2 separate regions of the Homo sapiens genome follow, and region 2 is linked to region 1. A link means that fine-mapping ties the variant in region 1 to the expression of a gene that starts in the linked region. Tissue or cell type: whole blood. Region 1 holds a variant in brackets; the other region holds the start of a gene. All regions are shown on one strand. Distances are from middle to middle.

Region 1 (9,750 bases):
TTAAAGATGGCCTAGGCTGGGTGCAGTGGCTCACACCTGTAATCCCAGCATTTTGGGAGGCGGAAGCAGGTGGATCACATGAGGTCAGGAGTTCAACACCAGCCTGGCCAACATGGTGAAACCCTGTCTCTACTAAAAATACAGAAAAAAAAAAATTAGCTGGGCATGGTGGTACATGTCTGTAATCCTAGCTACTCAGGAGGCTGAGGCAGGAGAATCACTTGAACCCGGGAGGCGGAGGTTGCAGTGAGCTGAGAGCACACCAATGCACTTCAGCCTGGGCGACAGAGCAAGACTCTATCTGAAGAAAGAAAAAAAGGCTTAATATGTCAACTTTACTCTTAAAACATGAGTAGACTAATTTGTCAATAATCATACCTTTTCAGGAAAATGTATCATTAATAATTGGATATTTCAGCCGGGCGCAGTGGCTCACGCCTGTAATCCCAGCACTTTGGGAGGCTGAGGTGGGCAGATCACCTGAGGTTAGGAGTTCGAGACCAGCCTGGCCAACATGGCAAAACCCCATCTCTACTAAAAATACAAAAATTAGCTAGGCGTGGTCATGGGTGCCTATAATCCCAGCTACTTGGGAGGCTGAAGCAGGAGAATCACTTGAACCCAGGAGGTAGAGTCTTCAGATAGCCGAGAATGCACCACTGCACTCCAGCCTGGGCAACAGACTGAGACTCTGTCTCAAAAAAAAAAAAAAAGAAAAAAGAAAAAAAAATGGAAACTCAAAATGACAAAACATAATAATATTATAGCTAGCATTTCCTGTGCACTAGCTCTGCGTGAAATGCCCATTCCAAAGGATTTCTCCACCTTGGAACCATTGGTATTTGGGGCCAGATAATGCTGAGTTGTAGGGGCTGCCATGGGCATTATAGGATGTTCAGCAGCGTCCCTGTCCTCTACCCCCTAGATGCCAGTAGCACCACCACCACCTCCCCTCAGTATGACGGCCAGGATGTCTTCAAACACTGCCAACTATTTCTGGGTGACATTTGAGAACCACTTCCATACAATTTTTCACAGCATCGTTCACGGCAAGGGCGATATTGTGATACCCATTTTACAGATAGGGAAACTGAGTCTCAGAGAGATATCTTACTGCTAGTCACAGAGCTAATAAGTGAAAGAATCAGAACTCAAATCCAACTTTTCATAACTCCATGTGATATTATAATTATGGTAACTACCAAGGAGTAAGCATTTATCCATACCTTCAGGCACTGTGCTAAGTAAGTGCTTTATGTGTATACCCTCATAGAATCCTCACATCAACTGTATGACATGGATACACTCATATTTATTTCACTAAATAGATCCTTGTTTGCAAATGGCCTTGATGAAAACTCATTATTCCTGCTCTTTTTGTAAGAGCAAACTGAGGCTCAGTAAGGTTATAGAACTTGGCCAAGGTCGTACAGCTGAAAAGCTGTAAGCCTGAATTGGAATATAGCTCTGTCTGACTCCACAGCCTATGGTCTTCGCCAACACAAATACCCACAAAGCCTGAGGTCTCATTATCCTGCACTCTTTGCCAATGGAGGATGGGAGAAAATGAGAAACTCTGATTTACTCATACAATTACAAGTAAGGGGCCAGGCGTGGCGGTGGCTCACACTTGTAATCCTGGCACTTAGGGAGACCGAGGCAGGTGGATCACCTGAGGTCAGGAGTTCGACCTCCTGGCCAACATGGTGAAACCCCATCTCTACTAATAATAAAAAATTAGCCAGGTCTCGTAGTGCATGCCTGTAATCCCAGCTACTTGGGAGGCTGAGGCAGGAGAATCGCTGTAACCTGGGAGGCAGAGGTTGCAGTGAGCTGAGATCATGCCACTGCACTCCAGCCTGGGCAACAGAGCAAGAATCCATCTCAAAAAAAAAAACAAAAAACACAGGTAAGTTCTGCTCTAATTGAGCTCAGTAGTCACTCATTCATTCATTCATCACTCATTGCCTATGCAGTATTGCATAGTCCAAAGAGCATGCTCTCCAATCCTGCTCTACTAATTACTTGCTGTGTGGCCTTGGGCAAATTACTTAAGTTCTCTGAGCCACAAGCTTCATTTTCCTTATCTATAAAATCAGATAATTACCTAGGTTTTAGGATTATTATGAAAACAGCATGAAATAATGCATGGAAAGTGTGTAGCCTAGAATGACTACACAGTAAGTGATCATTAACAATTTTTAATAAATTTTGTTGTTGTTACTTTGCAGAAGGAATTGAGCTGGTACATTCTGAATGCATGCAAAGTAGAATAATATGAAAATAGCCAAAGAAAAATCATCATGCCAGGGAAATACAATTGAAATGCCAAAGCAATCTCTAAGCAGTATGACAGGACAGCATTTAACTGCTGTCCCATATGTTAGCTTTTGGGGAAAAAAAAATTGCACATGAACTCATGTTTGTCATTAAAATTTTTTTAAAAAAAGCTTTTGACTTTATGTTGGCAAATGCCAGGAAATATACTTACAACACAAGTTACACTTTAAAAAAATGAAAATACATCTACAATTTTCTAGATTTCTTGTCATCATTTTTGCCTGTTTCTACTTTGAGGATTTGGGGGCGATAAAGAAAACAACTTCTGTTGCTAGGAACATTTCAATAAATGAAGATATATTGCTGCCCACAAAGATGCCCCATGAACCAGTCCTCCTGCTCTCCCACAAACCAAATTATACACAGATGTATGGCTGAGTCTGAAGATGTTTGTTAAGACTAGTCATTTTAATTCTGAACTTAGTTACAGATTCAAGACATAAAAGGGGAGGGAAAAAAGGTTGAGGGAATAATCTAAATTCTTTCTCCCAGGGAAGTTTTGTTTATCTTCTTTGAATCTAATCATCTGCCCGATTTGTATATTTCTTTATGCAAATTGGTCAGATGTTCTAAAAATCATATAGGAAGGCTAGGTCTAATAGCTCAGGGTCAAGATTTAGCATTGGAAGTCTTAAGGTCATTAGTCTTCCTTTCTAAAGTTACCTCTTAAGAAAATTCATAAAACTAGTGAATTCATTCACTTTGGATGGATCTTTCAGTTCTCACTTGAGAGAACAGATTTAAAAGGGTAACCCATTGAGATAAACACTGCAGTCCATGTTGGAATAACCAGATTAATATTTCTAAAAAGTAATCAGATTAATTTCTGTGGAAGGCAGTGGAGCTTAATGGTTAACTGTTGGGAGCTTCAGACTTGGATGAAACTGGCTTCACATCCCAGCTTTGCTCTTCAATTGCTGTGGCAGGTAGACTCGATATGGCCCCAGTGATTCCCACCTCCTGGTCTTTGTGCACTTGTGTAATCCTCTCCCCTAAGTGTGTATTGCCCTGGTGGCTTGATTCTAACCAACAGAATATGGTCAAAGTAATTGGATGCTACTTCTGTGATGAAACTACACAAGATGTGAGTTTTGTCTTGCTAGAAGTTTCTGTCCCTTGCTGCTTTGATGAAGCAAGTTTCCATGTTGTGAGCCACCATGTTAGAAAGTGCCATGTGCCAAGGAACTGAAGGTGGCCTCCAGCCAACAGGAAACTGAAGCCCTTGGGCCAAGAAACCTGAAGGAACTGAATCCTTCCAACAGCCATGTAAGTGAAGTTGCAAAGCAGACCTTTCCCCAGCTGAGTCTTCAGAGGTGACCCCCACCCTGACTGACTCCTCAGTTATAGCCTCTTGAGAACCCATAAGCAGAGTATTTAGCTAAGCTTTGCCCAAACTCCTGGCTCCCAGCAACTGTCAAATAATAAATATTTGTCATTTAAGGCTGCTAAGTTTGTGGTAATTTGTTAAGTAGTGTATTAGTCTGTGCTCATGCTGCTGATAAAGACATAGCAGAGACTGGATAATTTATAAAGGAAAGAGGTTGAAGGGACGTGTTGGACTCACAGTTCCAACATGGCTAGGGAGGCCTCACAATCATGGCAGAAGGCAAAGGAGGAGCAAAGTCACGTCTTACCTGGCAGCAGGCAAGAGAACATGTGCAGGGGAACTCCCTTTATAAAACCATCAGATATTGTGAAACTCACTACCACAAGAACAGTATGGGGGAACCACCCCTATGATTCAATTATCTCCACCTGGCCCTGCTCTTGACACGTGGGGATTATTACAATTCAAGTGAGATTTGGGTACAGACACAGCCAAACCATGTCAAGTAGCAATAGATCATCAATACAGTAGCTATGCCACCTTGGATGAGAGAATTAACCTCTCTGAGCCCAAGTTTTTTCTATGTAAAATGTGGATGCCAATACTTACTTCTCAGCGTGGCTGTAAAGATTCAATAAAACAAATGCTTAACATTGGAGCTGGCACCTTGTCAGCTTACTTTAAATTTACTTTTATTTTATTGATAATATTCTGTACTCATGATGCACACCAAACTCAGGAAATAATTAATGTGATATACAGGAATTTTAAATATATAAATCAGTTTTTTTAGAAATCACATACCAGGAAATTCAATGTTACAGTTGTCACAAAAGGAGGCACAGTTTCAGTTTTGTAAACAAAAAATAAAATTCTAAGGCCCATGTGAATGGACCCCCTCCTCTTAGCCAAGGACATTCCAAAGTTAACCTAACTAGTTCAGACCATGGTTGGGGGAGAGTCGGACATGCCTCCTTATACTCTCCCTGCTTTTGAAATTCAGGAAAAGCCAACCAGCATTAACATCAACACAGACCTTAAAGTTGATAAGAAACATTTACAGGCCAGGCACGGTGGCTCATGCCTGTAATCCCAACATTTTGGGAGGCCAGGGCAGGCAGATCACTTGAGGCCAGGAGGAGTTCAAGACCAGCCTGGGCAACATGGTGAAAACCCATCTCTACTAAAAATAGAAAAATTAGCTGGCCATGGTAGTGGATGCCTGTAATCCCAGCTACTCAGGAGTCTGAGGCAGAAAATCGCTTGATCCCAGGAGGCAGAGGTTGCAGTGAGCCAAGATCACATCACTGCACTCCAGCCTGGG[C/T]GACAGACAGAGCAAGACTCTGTCTCAAAAAAAAAAAAAAAAGAAAAGAAAAGAAAAAAAAAAAACCATTTACAATCTATTATCTCCAAAGCCTGCTACCTGGAGGCTTCTTCTGCATGATAATACTTTGGTCTCTACAACCCATTATCATAGCCGAGATATTCCTTTATATTGATTCCAGGTCTTTAGATAATAACTTAACTCTTTTAGTCAATTGCCCATCAGAAAATCTTTTTTTTTTTTTCATAATTTCATTTTCTTTTTTTCTTTCTTTTTCTTTTTTTTTTTTTTTGAGATGGAGTCTCACACTATTGCCTGGGCTGGAGTGCAATGGTGTGATCTCAGCTCACTACAACCTCCGCCTCCCGGGTTCAAGCGATTCGCCTGCCTCAGCCTCCCGAGTAGCTGGGATTACAGGTACCCGCCACCATGCCAGGCTAATTTTTTGTATTTTTAGTAGACACGGGGTTTCACCATGTTGACAAGCTGGTCTTGAACTCCTGACTTCGTGATCCATCCGCCTCAGCCTCCCAAAGTGCTGGGATTATAGGAGCCACCACGCCCAGCCCAGACAATCTTTAAATCAACCTATAACCTGGAAGCCCCCGTCTCGAGTTGTCCTGCCTTTCCAGCTCGAACCAATGTACATCTCACATGTATTGATTGACTGATGTCTAGTTAAAAGGTATAGAAGCGAGCTGTATCCTAACCACCTTGGGCACATGTCATCAGGAAATTCTAAGGCTGTGTCACAGGCATGTCTTTAACCTTGACAAAATAAACTTTCTAAATTGATTGAGACCTGTCTGGCACATCTGTTTGGGCTCACAGTTTCTACTGCCTGATTCTTGTGCAATGCAAGTTGAGGGGGGCACCTGAGTATCTGCATGCCAGAGGAAAGATCACCCCAAAGAGAGGCAACGGGAAACAAAGATCCACAGAAAGAGGAGTGCATACATACTTCATAAGAGTAAACCAGTTTAGGGCTGGGCACAGTGGCTCAAGCCTGTAATCCCAGCACTTTGGGAGGCCAAGGCAGGCGGATCATCTGAGGCCAGGAGTTCGAGACCAGCCTGGCCAACATGGTGAAACCCTGTCTCTACTAAAAATACAAATTTAGCTGGGTATGGTGACTCACGCCTGTAGTCCCTGCTACTTGGGAGGCTGAGGCAGGAGAATTGCTTGAACCTGGGAGGTAGAGGTTGCAGTGAGCCAACATTGCACCACTGCACTCCAGCCTGGGTGACAGAGTAAGACTCCATCTTAAAAAAAAAAAAAAAAAAAAAAGAGTAAACTGGTTTACCCATAACTTATAGTTTAGTTTGCCAAGTGTGAGGGATATTGGGGAGCCCCTTACACTATTGATGGGAAAGAGAACATGGTGACAAAACCCATCAACAATTTATGTGTATGTGCTATTTAGCCCAATAATCCCATTTCTAGGAACTTATCCTAAAGAAATTCTCCAAAAAAGAGCACCAATATATTTAAGCTGTTTATTGCAATAGTCCTCATAGATAGTAGGTTGAACCATATGAAATGACTGGTATTTGGCCATTTTTGACCAATGAACACAGCAATTTCATAGAGTTCTACCTAAAAGAACAGCATTTGAAACAACTTCAGAATCCACGTGCAACTGTAAAACTGTGGACTATTTTATACATACACATATATGGCATATCAACATTTACATACACACACATATATATTGGTATATATGACATCAGCGTATTAAGTAAAGAAAACAGCTGACAAAATAACATTCCTAGGCCATGCAAAACAATGACTTTGGGAGGTCAAGGCCAGTGGATCACTTGAGTCACAGGAGGTGGATCACTTGAGTCCAGTAGTTCAAGACCAGCCTGGGTAACATGGTGAAACCCTGTACCCCGTCTCTTAAAAAAAAAAAAAAAATTAGCCAGGCATTGTGATGCATACCTGTAGTCCCAGCTACTCAGGAGGCTGAAATGGGAGGAACACTTGAGCCTGGGAGGTGAAGATTGCAGTGAGCCATAATCACACCATTGCACTCCAGCCTGCGTGACAGAGCAAGAACTTGTGTCAAAAAAAAAAAAATTTAGCGAGGCATGGTGGTGTGTGCCTGTAGTCCCAACTACTCAGGAGACTGAGGTGAGAGGATCACTCGGGCCTGGGACATCAAAGCTGCAGGGAGCCGTGACTGCGCCACTGCACTCCAGCCTGGGTGACAGAACAAAACCATGTCAACAACAACAAAAAAGAAAATAAAAGAAACTCATTTGTCCTTTATTGCTTTAGTATTTCATGAAGACCATAATTTTATCAGGCAATAAAACTTCCGTGGAGGTTTAAAGAAGTTCCTTCAATTTCACACATTACCCTTTGCATTAACTGTAACGTCAGAACACTCAGATGGCCAAGAAAACATGAACAGTCCACCAGCAAAAAAGGGTTGGATAAGGAGAAAAAAAAAATTGGAAAGAATTCGATATACAATATTTCAAAAATATAAGCATCTAAGTGCCAATGATAGAAAAACATCAGAATTTTATTGGGCTTTCTCATCCTGATTTTGGTATTATTTCCATTACGAAGAAAGGGGCACTACGATTGCAGTTCTTGGGACTCTAAAAGCCTTGAGCCAGTGTTAGCTTCATGTAATTTTTAACATGGACTTGACCCAGGACATACTGTTTCCAAAGAACAGCTTCTTCTCATAAGGCAGGGACAAAACAGGAAAGCAAATCTCCTTGCTCTCTTGTTTTTGAATGTCTTTTGCTCTAATAATCTGTGTCAAGAACTGCATGGCTGAATGTCATACTGTGTTGTGCTTGCGGCTGTTGTGCACATTGTGATAGAGATGTTTACAACTGGATGGTGGGTTGTCACAGCACAGCACTGGGGACAGTGGCCAGCACTGCTCAGGAACACAGCTGAGGGCCGGGCGCAGTGGCTCTTGCCTGTAATCTCAACACTTTGGGAGGCCAAGGCAGGTGGATCACCTGAGGTCAGGAGTTTGACATCAGCCTGGCCAACATGGTGAAACCCTGTCTCTTCTAAAAATACAAAAATTAGCCAGACGTGGTGGTGAGTGCCTGTAATCCCAGCTAATCGGGAGGCGGGTCTTTCCCATGCTGTTCTCATGATAGTGAATAAGTTTCACCAGATCTGATGGTTTTAAAAATGGGAGTTTCCCTGCACAAGCTACCTCATTCTTCTCTTGTCTGCCGCCATGTGAGACATGGCTTTCACCTTCTGCAATAATTGCAAGGCCTCCCCAGCCATGTGGAACTGTAAAAACATTAAACCTCTTTCTTTTGTAAATTGCCCAGTTTCAGGTATGTCTTTATCAGCAGCATGAAAATGGACTAATACAGCCTCCTTGAGACTTCTCTTGTTTCCATTACCTAGCACGATTCCATCTAAACTCTTCTTTTCTGTGTCCTTTCATCCTTCTCATGTTCTTAACCTTAACCATCCTTAGCCATAGGTGAATATTCTCTGTCCTCAGTTCTCTGTTCTTCTTTTTTTTTCTTTTTTTTTTTTTTTTTACACTTACACCCATGATGTAGCTCAAGGGTTATATGGTTTGGCTCTGTGTCCTCACCCAAATCTCCCATCGAATTGTGATTTCCAGTGTTGGAGGAGGGACCTTGTGGGAGGTGATTGGATCATGGGGGCGGATTTCTCACTTGCTATTCTTGTGATAGTGAGTTCTCATGAGATCTGTTTATTCAAAAGTGTGTAGCACTTTCCCCTTCACCCTCTCGCTCTTCTGCTCTGCCACGGGAAGACGTGCCGGCTTCCCCTTTGCCTTCCGCCATGACTGTAAGTTCCCTGAGGCCTCCCCAACCATTCCTCCTGCACAGGCTGCAGAACTATGAGTCAATTAAACCACTTTTCTTCATAAAATTATCCAATCTCAGGTAGCTCTTTATAGTAGTGTGAAAATGGACTCATACAAAGATCTTACTATCATCTCTACTCATGTAATTTCCAAATCTGCACCACTAGCTCTGATTTCTCACTGGACTTGTATTTCCAGTGGATATAGAGGTGAACTATAGACACACTGAGCTGAAAGGAACTTTAGAGAGTGTTTAATCCAGAGACCTCAAACTGAATGGCTCAGGGGGCCAGGAAGGTAACATAAATATAAAGCAGGCTGGGTGTAGGTGGCAAATGGCAACTGATACTGGACCTCACCATCAGGAATACAATAGGGCATGGTGGGGGCTGTGGAAAAACAGGGGACCACATGTCCTATCTACAGGGATCAGCTTCTGCCAGTTTCTGGAGGCACAAGTCTGAGCTTTTGTGTATCATCTCCCAATTGTCAAATGTTGCTAGAAAATTAAAATGTAAAACCCTGTGTAGAATAAACAAACCATATCTGCTACCCATTTGCTCTTCTGATCTAACGCAGTGCCTCCATTATTTATTTATTTTTATTTTTTGAGATAGAGTCTCACTCTGTCACCCAGGCTGGAGTGCAGTGGTGCAATCTCAGCTCACTGCAACCTCCACCTCCCAGGTTTAAGCGATTCTCATGCCTCAGTCTCCCGAATAGCTGGGACTAATGGCATGCGCCACCACACCCAGCTAATTTTTGTATTTTTAGTAGAAACGGGCTTTCACTATGTTGGGCAGTTTGGTCTCAAACTACTGACCTCAAGTGATCCACCCACCTTGACCTCCCAATGTGCTGGGATTACCAGTGTGAGCCATCATGCCCAGCCAGTGCCCTCTTTTTTTAAAGATCAAGTGGCTTGGGCTC
Region 2 (9,750 bases), 23 kb after region 1:
CTGCACTCCAGCCTGGGCAACACAGCAAGACTCTGTCTCGGGGGAATAAAAAAAAAAAAAGGTTGCATTCTTTCCAGTTTCTGATTAGCTTTTCCAGAGGAGGCAGTCAGAAATGCATTTATCTCAGTGAGCAGAGGGATAACTTTGAGTTCTGTCTGTCCTTTGTCTACAAGGAAATTCCTTCTGAGCGACGTACGTAGCTTTTTTATCTTAGTAGGTTTTTTTTTTTTTTTTTTTGAGACAGTTTCCTTCTGTCACCCAGGCTGGAGCGCAGTGGCACAATCTCAGCTCACTGCAACCTCCGTCTTGTGGTTTGAAGCGATTCTCCTGCCTCAACCTCCCGAGTAGCTGGGATTATAGGCATGCACCACTACAACTGGCTAGTTTTTGTATTTTTAGTACAGATGGATGTCTCACCATGTTGGCCAGGCTGGTCTCAAACTCCTGACCTCAAGTGATCCTCCTGCCTCGGCCTCCCAAAGTGCTGGGATAACAGGTGTAAGCCACTGTACCCAGCCTTAGTAGCTGTCTGTTTCAGCAATAGAGTGGGAGGCAGGTTTGCCCTAAGCAGCTCCCAGCCTGACTTTTCCCCTTGGCTTAGTGATTTTGGGGTCTCAATATTTATTTTCCTTTCACAATTGCAGCTATTGCTATCATCCAATGCACTGGTACAGTTTTGAAGTTGCTCCAGATTGGCCTATAGATCTATTCCCAATTGCTGCTGAGGTTCAAAATATGGTTATCTTGTTGAGATATTCATAATCCATTTATTTATTAATGCAACAAACATTTAGTGTCTATGCCTCAGGCATCCTGCTTGGTGAGCTAGACAGTCAAGGTAACTGCCCTCAGCTGGGCGTGGCGGCTCATGCTTGTAATCCTAACACTTTGGGAGGCTGAGGCAGGAGGATCACTTGAGGCCAGGAGTTCAAGACCAGCCTGGATAACAGTGAGACACCATCTTTATAAATAATAATTTTTTTTTTGAGACAGAGTCTCACTTCGTCACTCAGGCTAGAGTGCAGTGGCACGATCTTGGCCCACTGCAACCTCCGCCTCCCAGGTTCAAGTGATTCTCCTGCCTTAGCCTCCCAAGTAGCTGGGATTACAGGCGTGCTCCCATGCCTACCTAATTTTTATATTTTCAGTACAGATGGGGTTTCACCATGTTGGCCAGACTGGTCTCGATCTCCTGACCTCAAATGATCTGCCTGCCTTGGCCTCCCAAAGTGCTGGGATTACAGGCGTGAGACACTGTGCCCGGCCAAAACAGTAAATTTTTTAAAAAGGTAACCAACTTAATAGACCTTATAGTTGAGTCGGGAAAGTCAACATTAAATAAATAATTACACCTGAAAACATATAATTATCAACTGTGCAAAGTGCAACAAGGGACAAGAACATAGTGCTCTAACAAAGAATGAGGGAGGCCTAGTTTAGATCAGCAAAGTGTGCAAATGGGTAGGGCATGGCCTCTCCACAGAAGTGTTATTTAACTGCAGGCCTTCATGTTCAAATGGGCTTTAGCTCAGCAGGGGAAGATACTTTTTTGTTTGTTTGTTCGTTTTTCAGACAGAGTCTTGCTCTTTCACCAGGCTGGAGTGCAGTGGCGCGATCTCAGCTCACTGCAACCTCCGCCTCCCGGGTTCAAGCAATTCTCCTGCCTCAGCCTCCCGAGTAGCTGGGATTAAAGGCACGCGCCACCACATCTGGCTAATTTTTGTATTTTTAGTAGAGACAGGGTTTTACCATGTTGGCCAGGATGGTCTTGATCTCTTGACCTCGTGATCCACCTGCCTTGGCCTCCCAAAATGCTGGGATTATAGGCATGAGCCACGGTGCCCAGCTGGGAAGAGGCATTTTAAGCAGAAAGAACTGCATATGCAGAGAGGGAAATTAATTTGCATGTTTAATGAACTGAATGGCCAGTATGACTGCAAAGCTAGTGAATAAGAGGCAGGGTCTGTTTCTATAATTCATTCTCTCCTTCACATTTCTTTTAATTAAAAAAAATTTTTTAATAGAGATGAGTTCTCACTATGTTGCTCAGGCTGGTCTTGAACTCCTGGGCTCAAGTAATCCTCCTGCCTAAACCTCCCAAAATGCTGGGATTACAAGCATGAGCCATTGTGCTCAGCTTCCCCTTCACATTTTTTTTTTTTAAAGACACAGTCTCACTCTGTCGCTCAGGCTGGAGTGCAGCGGCGGGATCTCGGCTCACTGCAACCTCTGCCTCTCGGGTTCAAGTGATTCTCCTGCCTTAGCATCCCGAGTAGCTGGGACTACAGGCGTGCACCACCACACCCAGCTAATTTTTGTATTTTTAGTTGAGATGAGGTTTCACCATGTTGGCGAGGGTGGTCCCGATCTGTAGACCTCATGATCCGCCACCTCCACCTCCCAAAGTGCTGGCATTACAGGCCTGAACCATTGCGCCCGGCCTCCTTCACATTTCTTGGGACTCCTCCTCTGGGCCAGGCCATGTTCAGGGAATAGGGTTATAGTGATTGATTAATAATAACAATGGCTAATATTCATTGAGTACCTACCATTTGTTATTAGAACTATTATTCTAAGCACTTTGATACATGAACTCATTTAAGCCTTTCTGCAACCCTATGACCTAGATGCTACTATTGTTTCCATTTCACAGATAGGGAAACTGAGGCATAGAGAAACTATGCAATTTTCAAGAGCATACAACCAGTAAGTGGGTAGAACCGGGATTAATCCAAGCCCACTGACTCCAGGACTCATAGGCATTTATACTCTTAACCACTATGATTCATGGGTGACTCTTGTCAAGGATTAGAGAACAGTAGTTATGGCCATATTAGCTACTCAAACAGTGCTTTGGATGTAGGCAGCTAGTTTAGAAAAGAATTTCCCAAATTTGTAAGATCATAAGAGCTCCCCTGCAGTGCTTGTTAAAAACAGATCATTTTCAGGCCAGGCACTGTGGCTCATGCCTGTAATCCTAGCACTCTAGGAGGCCCGGGTGGGTGGATTGCTTGAGCTCAGGAGTTCCAGATCAGCCTGGGCAACATAGTCAAACTCGTCTCTACTAAAAATACAAAGTATTAGCCAGGCATGGTGGCGCACGCCAATAGTGCCAGCCACTTAGGAGGCTGAGGTGGGAGAATCACCTGAGCCCAGGAGATCGAGACTGCAGAGATTGTGCCACTGCACTCCAGCCTAGGCAACCAGAGTGAGACCCTGTCTCAAAACAACAACAACAACAACAAAACACAGATCATTTTCATAGAGATTTGGATTCAATAGGTCCATTCTGGAATTTGTATTTTCAACACGTTTGACAAATGCTGGCTAAGTAGTTCACTACAATGGCTCTTGAGTTGAAGAGACACTAATTTGGTTACTCGCAGCTTTACTACCTCTCTAGATGTGTGTCACCTTGTGCAAGTTCGTTCATCTCTCTGAGCGTCAGTTTCCCCAAATGACGGATGCAGCTAATAACAGCACCACCTCCTAGGGCTGTAGTGGGGATTAAGTGAGCAGCGTGCAAAGTGCTTAGCGCCCTGCCTGGTGCATAGCAAGCAAAGATAATAACAGAAAGATGGTGGCAGCCACTGGGAAGTTCAGGCTGAGACAGTCTTCCAAGACGTCCACCTTTTCATCTTTTTTTTTTTTTTTTTTGTATTGGCAAGGTCTCTCGCCGTGTTGCCCAGGCTGGTCTCCAACACCTGGACTCAAGCGATCCTCCCTCCTTGGCCTCCCAAAGAGCTGGGGTTACAGGCGTAAGCCACCCCAGTGGCTCCTTCTGACTTTATGATAGAGTTGTCAGATAAAAAAAAATCAGGACGCTTCCATTCAAACCTGCAAAAAGAGAAAAATTTAAAAAAATTAGGACGCCCAGTTCAATTGGAATTTCAGATAATGAAAAAAAAATTTAACGTAAGTAGCTCCCAAATACTGCATAGGACATATTTATACCAAGTCAGTCATTCTTTAAAAAAAAAAATCTGAAATTCCAATTTAACCGGGAGTCCTGCATTTTTACTTGTTAAATCTAGTAACTCTGCCTTTAGGGAAGGACTGACCCCAAAGCCTTATCCCCGCCCACGCGTGCCCTAGACAGTCTCCACTCGCCAGGCGCGCAGGTCGATCCCAGAGGGGCCGCTGGCGCCTCCGCTCCGCCCAGGCAGCACTAGTGGCGCCCCGAGCCACCGGGCCCCTCCCCGTCCCGCCCCAGTCCCGCCCCGAGATCAAAGGGCGTCGCCCAAAGCGGGACAGGTCCAGCGGTTGTTCTGTGTGAAGTCGCGCGGCTTCCACCCACGCAGTGTTCTAAGTGAAGGCCAGAAACTCGCTCGCCATGTCGGCTGCAGAGGCGGGGGGTGTTTTCCACAGAGCCAGGGGCAGGACCCTGGCCGCGTTTCCCGCAGGTACTGCCCGCCCCTCACCCGGGGAGGGGACTCTGGGGCTGCGGAACCTTCCGCCGGGGGAACCTTTTGTTCAGGTGTGCGCTCCGCCAGTCGGACACCATCCGGGGCTGCACCGGGGCCTGGGAGCCGCCATAGCTGCATCAAAGCCTGCTCTTAGGGATTCCAGGGGCGCAGTTGAGAGGCGAGGCCGAGAGAGCGATCTGGTCTAGGAGCCTCCTTGGCCTTGACCTAACTTCCCCCAGAGAAGGGAAGTAAGAGGAGGGTAGCAAAGCATAGTTAATGACAGCTTGGACTCTGCAGCGAGACCTGGTTTCCAAGCTGTGCATTAGCATCTTGGCCTCAGCTTCCACATCTGTGAAACGGGAATACTTGTGGGTGTTACTGGATAAGCGTTCGGTGCATGTTAGAGGGTGTCGGTTTTATTAAGGTTGTTCACCGTTATGTATTCTGTACTCCATAATGACGTTTATTTAAGTCATTCACCGAAATGGTAACACTGCCCCATCAGAGCAGTAGAGAGGGAGGGCATTCGAGAGTCGTAGTGAAGTGCTTGGATTTTGGATTTAGATTATCTGCTTTGCCTTAAAAATGGGTTTGATAATACCTGCCTCATAGGGTTGTTGGAAGCGTAAACAGATCAAAAGTATTTTTGTAACCCGGTGTTGGACGCATGCTAGGTGCTAAGTAAAGAGGGAGGTTTGTTTCTGGTTTGTTGATTCCCCTCTGTGGCTTTTTGCTGCCTGCAGCCAGATCGCCTCCCAGGCTCTCACCAGCTTTATACCCCCAGGGAAGTCACCCTAAATGCCCTATATGATCAGGCTTGTGTCCACTTCCTTCAGGGTTGTCATTCTCTCTCTTGCCCAGTTCTGCAACAGGTTTTGTTGTTGCCCTTGTTTGAACTGCATTTAAAAGGGCCAAGGCCGTTCTTTCCCTGAGGGTCTTGGCGCTTGCTGTTTTCTGCTTCTTTAGCAGGGTTGGTGAGCCTGGCTCTCTCAACCGTCACACCTCATTTTAAAGTTCATTCACTTCCTCAGAGACTTTACCTGCTACCTTATCTAAAGTAGGTTTCTCCGGTAATTCTATGGTAAAACCTTATTTATTCATTTAAGGCGGAGTCTTGCTTTATTGCCCAGGCTGGAGTGCAGTGGCACGATCTTGGCTCACTGTAACCTCCGCCTCCCGGGTTCAAGCGATTCTCCTGCCTCAGCCTCTGGAGTAGCTGGAACTATAGGCACGCACCACCACGCCCGGCTAATTTTGTATTTTTAGTAGAGATGGGGTTTCTCCATGTTGGCCAGGCTGGTCTCGAACTCACAACATCAGGTGATCCGCCGTCCTCAGCCTCCTAAAGTGCTGGGATTACAGACCTGAGCCACCGCGCCCGGCCTGGGACGACTGTATTTTAATGGACCTTGTCTTTTTTGTCCAACATGAAGATTTTGCTCTTTTCTTGCTGGGCAACATTCCATTGGATGATTATATACCTTATACATTCTGTTGATGTATATGCTGAATATCTTCCCTTTGCCTCTCCAAACCTTTCTCCCTTCCCCACCATGCCCCAGGGGTTTGCCCTCCGTGAGCTACATCGGTGGGCTCCTTGCCTTTTGGTTTTCCTTTGGGCTCAGCCAGTGGGGAGCCCTGAGAAGAAATCAGAGCAGGGAGAGAAGCAAAAGGCAGCTGTATTTATTCTTGCAGTTTACTCTGTGGGGTTGCCTCGCCTGGCTGTCTTCCTCCCCACCCCTGAAGGTCAAGGTCGCTCCTTTTCTCAGGACAGCTTTTCTCCTCATTCTCTCTAGTTCTGGATTTGAGTAACCATTTCCTCCTTTGAGGCGTGGGAGTGGCAGTGGTTCTGCTTTTCTAACCTTGGGTTACCACACTCCCTTGTAGGTTTCGTCCACCCAACCCCCACCAAGTAATCCCTTTTTAAACCCTTTTTAAAATCATCCTAATTTGAGAATGCCAACTATTTCCTGCAAGGATCCTGACTAATACAATGGCCATTTAGTTGTTTCTGGTTTTTGCCCTTGGTAACAGTGCTGTTATGAACATTCTGTACAAATCTCTTTGTGGACACATGGGAGAGTTACTCTGAGGCATATACCTACAAGCTATGTTCTGGGTTATAGGGTATAATCATCCCCAGCATTACTAGATGTGGTCAAACTGCCTTCCAAAGTGGTAGTGCCAATTTATACTCCCACCAGCAGTATATGAGAGTTCCCTGTTACTCTGCTGTATTATTTTTTTTTTCAGTTCAAGAAATATTTGTTGTGGGCTGGCTGCGGTGGCTCACGCCTATATATTTGTTGAGGGCCGGCCGCGGTGGCTCACGCCTGTAATCCCAGCACTTTGGGAGACTGAGGCGGGTGGATCACCTGAGGTCAGGAGTTCGAGACCAGCATGGTCAACATGGTGAAACTCCATCTGTACTAAAAATACAAAATTAGCTGGGTGTGGTGGCACATGCCTGTAGTCCTAGCTACTTGGGAGGCTATGGCAGGAGAATTGCCTGAGCCTGGGAAGCAGAAGTTGCAGTGAGCCGAGAATGTGCCACTGCACTCCACCCTGGACAACAGAGCAAGACTCCAGCTCAAAACAAACAAACAAAAAAACCGAAAGGAAATAAATATTTCTTATATTCCTATTGCACTGTCCAGTATGGTGGAGAATAGGAAGTTGGGGGCGGGGGAGTGGTTCAAGTTACATGCTCTCAGAGGCTTGTAATAATCCAGGTACAAAGCTAGGGCACAAAAAATAATGCTTGGCTACTGGTGGGCTCTGAGGTCATTCACGCAGGGTTTCCCTGAGGAAGTGTTGCTTCGTCTGATTGCTAAAAGAGGAGTATGAGTTAACTGGGCCACGAAGGGAGGGAAGACCATGTGGACCATGGGCAGAGCAAGTGTGAGAGTCCTAGGACATGGCAGGATGGGAAAGGGAAGGATGAGGGCTGAAGGAAGTCTCTGAGTCTGGAGCAGAAAGATGAGGTTGGGACATGGTGTGGGCTGAGGCTGGAGAGGGAGGTGGTGGTAACTAAGGATTTTTGTCGTGTCCTAATAGCATCAAGAGGTTTCAAGCTGGATGTGTGAGGAAGCAAGGATGTATGATCAGATTTTTATTTTGAAAAGAGTGGTCTGATTGCAGCAATGGCAACAAAAGCATTTCTACTTTAGAGCAACTTGGGATGCAATCCAGTTGGAAGCTGGAGCTCAAGGATTTGTCCAGAGGCTGCATTTCTGTAGTCCCCCATGGTTTACTTTTTTTTTTTTTTTTTTGAGACAGAGTCTAGCTCTGTCACCCAGACTGCAGTGCAGTGATGCTACTCACTGCAACCTCCACCTCCCACGTTCAAACGATTCTCCTGCTTCAGCCTCCCGAGTAGCTGGGATTACAGGCATGTACCACCATGCCCGCTAATTTTTGTGTTTTTAGTAGAGACAGGGTTTCGCCATGTTGGCCAGGCTGGTCTGGGACTCCTGACCTCAGGCACCTCGGCCTCCCAAAGTGCTGGGATTTACAGGCATGAGCCACCGCACTTGGCCCCCATTGTTTACTTTGAATGTGTTTATTTGCTGTAGCTGGAGGTGCCTATTGGGCACGGGGTGTCTTTCAGTGGAGATGGTGGGAGTGCTGAGGTATAGTAGCTTCCTAGGCCATTGCAGCTGCCAGGGGGCCACCACTGGGACCAGAGGATCAGAGAGCAGCTCCCCTGGATAAGAATGGGGATGCTGGAGAGAGACTTGATGATAAATCTATAAGATACCTACCCTGCTGATAGGAGGAGAGAGTGACTCTGAACTTTTCTTAGCCCCGAGTAAATCTAGAAGTGGGGCCAGCACTTGATCTCCTCTGTGAGCCATGCAGTCCCATAGACACACCCAGGATGGGTCATTTAACGGAGGGCCTAGAGAGGCCCAGCCTCAGAGTGTTCTGCTGAGAACCCCAGGTTTGTGGGTTCACATTACTAGGTGCTGAACCCTAGCCTACCATTGCTGCTTCCATTGCACTCATTGACAATTCCCCGGGGTCCTGACTCTATTAGCATCGCTGGCAACTTGGAGAGGTGCCCTTAGAGGCATCAGAGGCCTCTCCAGACTCCTTGGGAAGCCAGTAGATTTGCCCCTTGGGCAGACTGAGAAAGTTAAAGAACTAGCTTTTCGAGGCTGGGAGCAGTGGCTTACGCCTGTAATTCCTGCACTTTGGGAGGCCGAGGCAGGTGGATTGCTTGAGGCCAGGAGTTTAAGACCAGTCTGGCCAACATGGCGAAACCCCATCTCTACTAAAATTAAAAAAATTAGCCGGGTGTGGTGGCAGGCACCTGTAATCCCAGCTACTTGGGAGGCTGAGGCAGGAGAATCACTTGAACCTGAGAGGCGGAGGTTGCAGTAAGCCAAGATTGCCCGCTGCACTCTAGCCTAGGAGACAGAGTGATGACTGTGTCTCAAAAAAAAAAAAAAAAAAAACTGACTTTTCCCCTTCTCTTGCCAAAACACACACCATCAAAGGGGTTTGATTAACTCAAGCAACAGTCCCTAAAAATCACAGCTCTGAACCCTTCACCTTTGCTGCAGAATCAGCTCATTGAGCAGTTTGTTTTCCAAGTGTAGCCTGCCAATTAAATGAAAGAGCGCTTTGCTTTAAGACCCATTTCCTCCCACCGGTGATTTACGTGAGTAACAGTATTCCCATCAACTCCTTCCAGTAGTGGTATGTGTGACACTTGGTTTCAGTCATCCGTTCCCTGTTAACATAATGTGCTAGGCTCTGTTGACGGATGTTGATTAAAAAAAATTGTACATGTCTCACCTGAGAAAGCTCACATTCCTAAGGCATGTTCAGATATTCATTTTAATTAGGCAAATTGATAATTAGGTTTTCTTGACACATATCCTAATTAGGACTACTTTCTTCTAGTAATTGTCTTTTGAGAAGTTTATGGCTTCTGTTTTGAAGAAATCCTAAAAGGGAGAGAGATCAAGATAAAATATGCTTTTAAAGTGACTTAATTATTTTTAGGTCTGAATCTGTTTTTCCAGTTTGATATTTTCCCTTCAGAGAACTGGACTAATGGGTGGTATTCTTAAAAAGATTATTTTCCCAGACATTTCATTCCTAAGAAGCTGATGGAATTTGCTAATCCTGAATCTTTCCTTGTACTCTCTGGAAAACTTCTCCCTTGGCAGAGAATAGTGTCAGTAAAAAAATAACTCACTCTGTCTCTTGCAGGTCTCACCTAAGAACTTTTCTAGAAATAGTAGACCTGGAAAGGTATCTCCAAGTTTGAACAAAGTTGAAAATATTGTGGTTTTAAAAATTCTAACAGGATGATGATGATGAAATAAATGCT

What was found.
Region 2: it holds the start of CPPED1, and the variant in region 1 is fine-mapped to the expression of CPPED1 in whole blood (TOPMed, PIP above 0.99).

The regions. Positions count from the first base shown.
Region 1 is chr16:12,821,039-12,830,788 of GRCh38, reverse strand. No RefSeq gene overlaps it. Among named protein-coding and RNA genes, the nearest start is that of CPPED1, 22 kb to the right of the region's middle. The variant C/T (reference allele first, on the strand shown) is at 4,992.
Region 2 is chr16:12,798,360-12,808,109 of GRCh38, reverse strand. CPPED1 (calcineurin like phosphoesterase domain containing 1) reads left to right here and starts at 4,223. Exons shown (of 4, transcript NM_018340.3): 1 at 4,223-4,403. The coding sequence starts at 4,334. RefSeq lists a silencer at 4,142-4,191 and enhancers at 4,272-4,641, 5,964-6,043.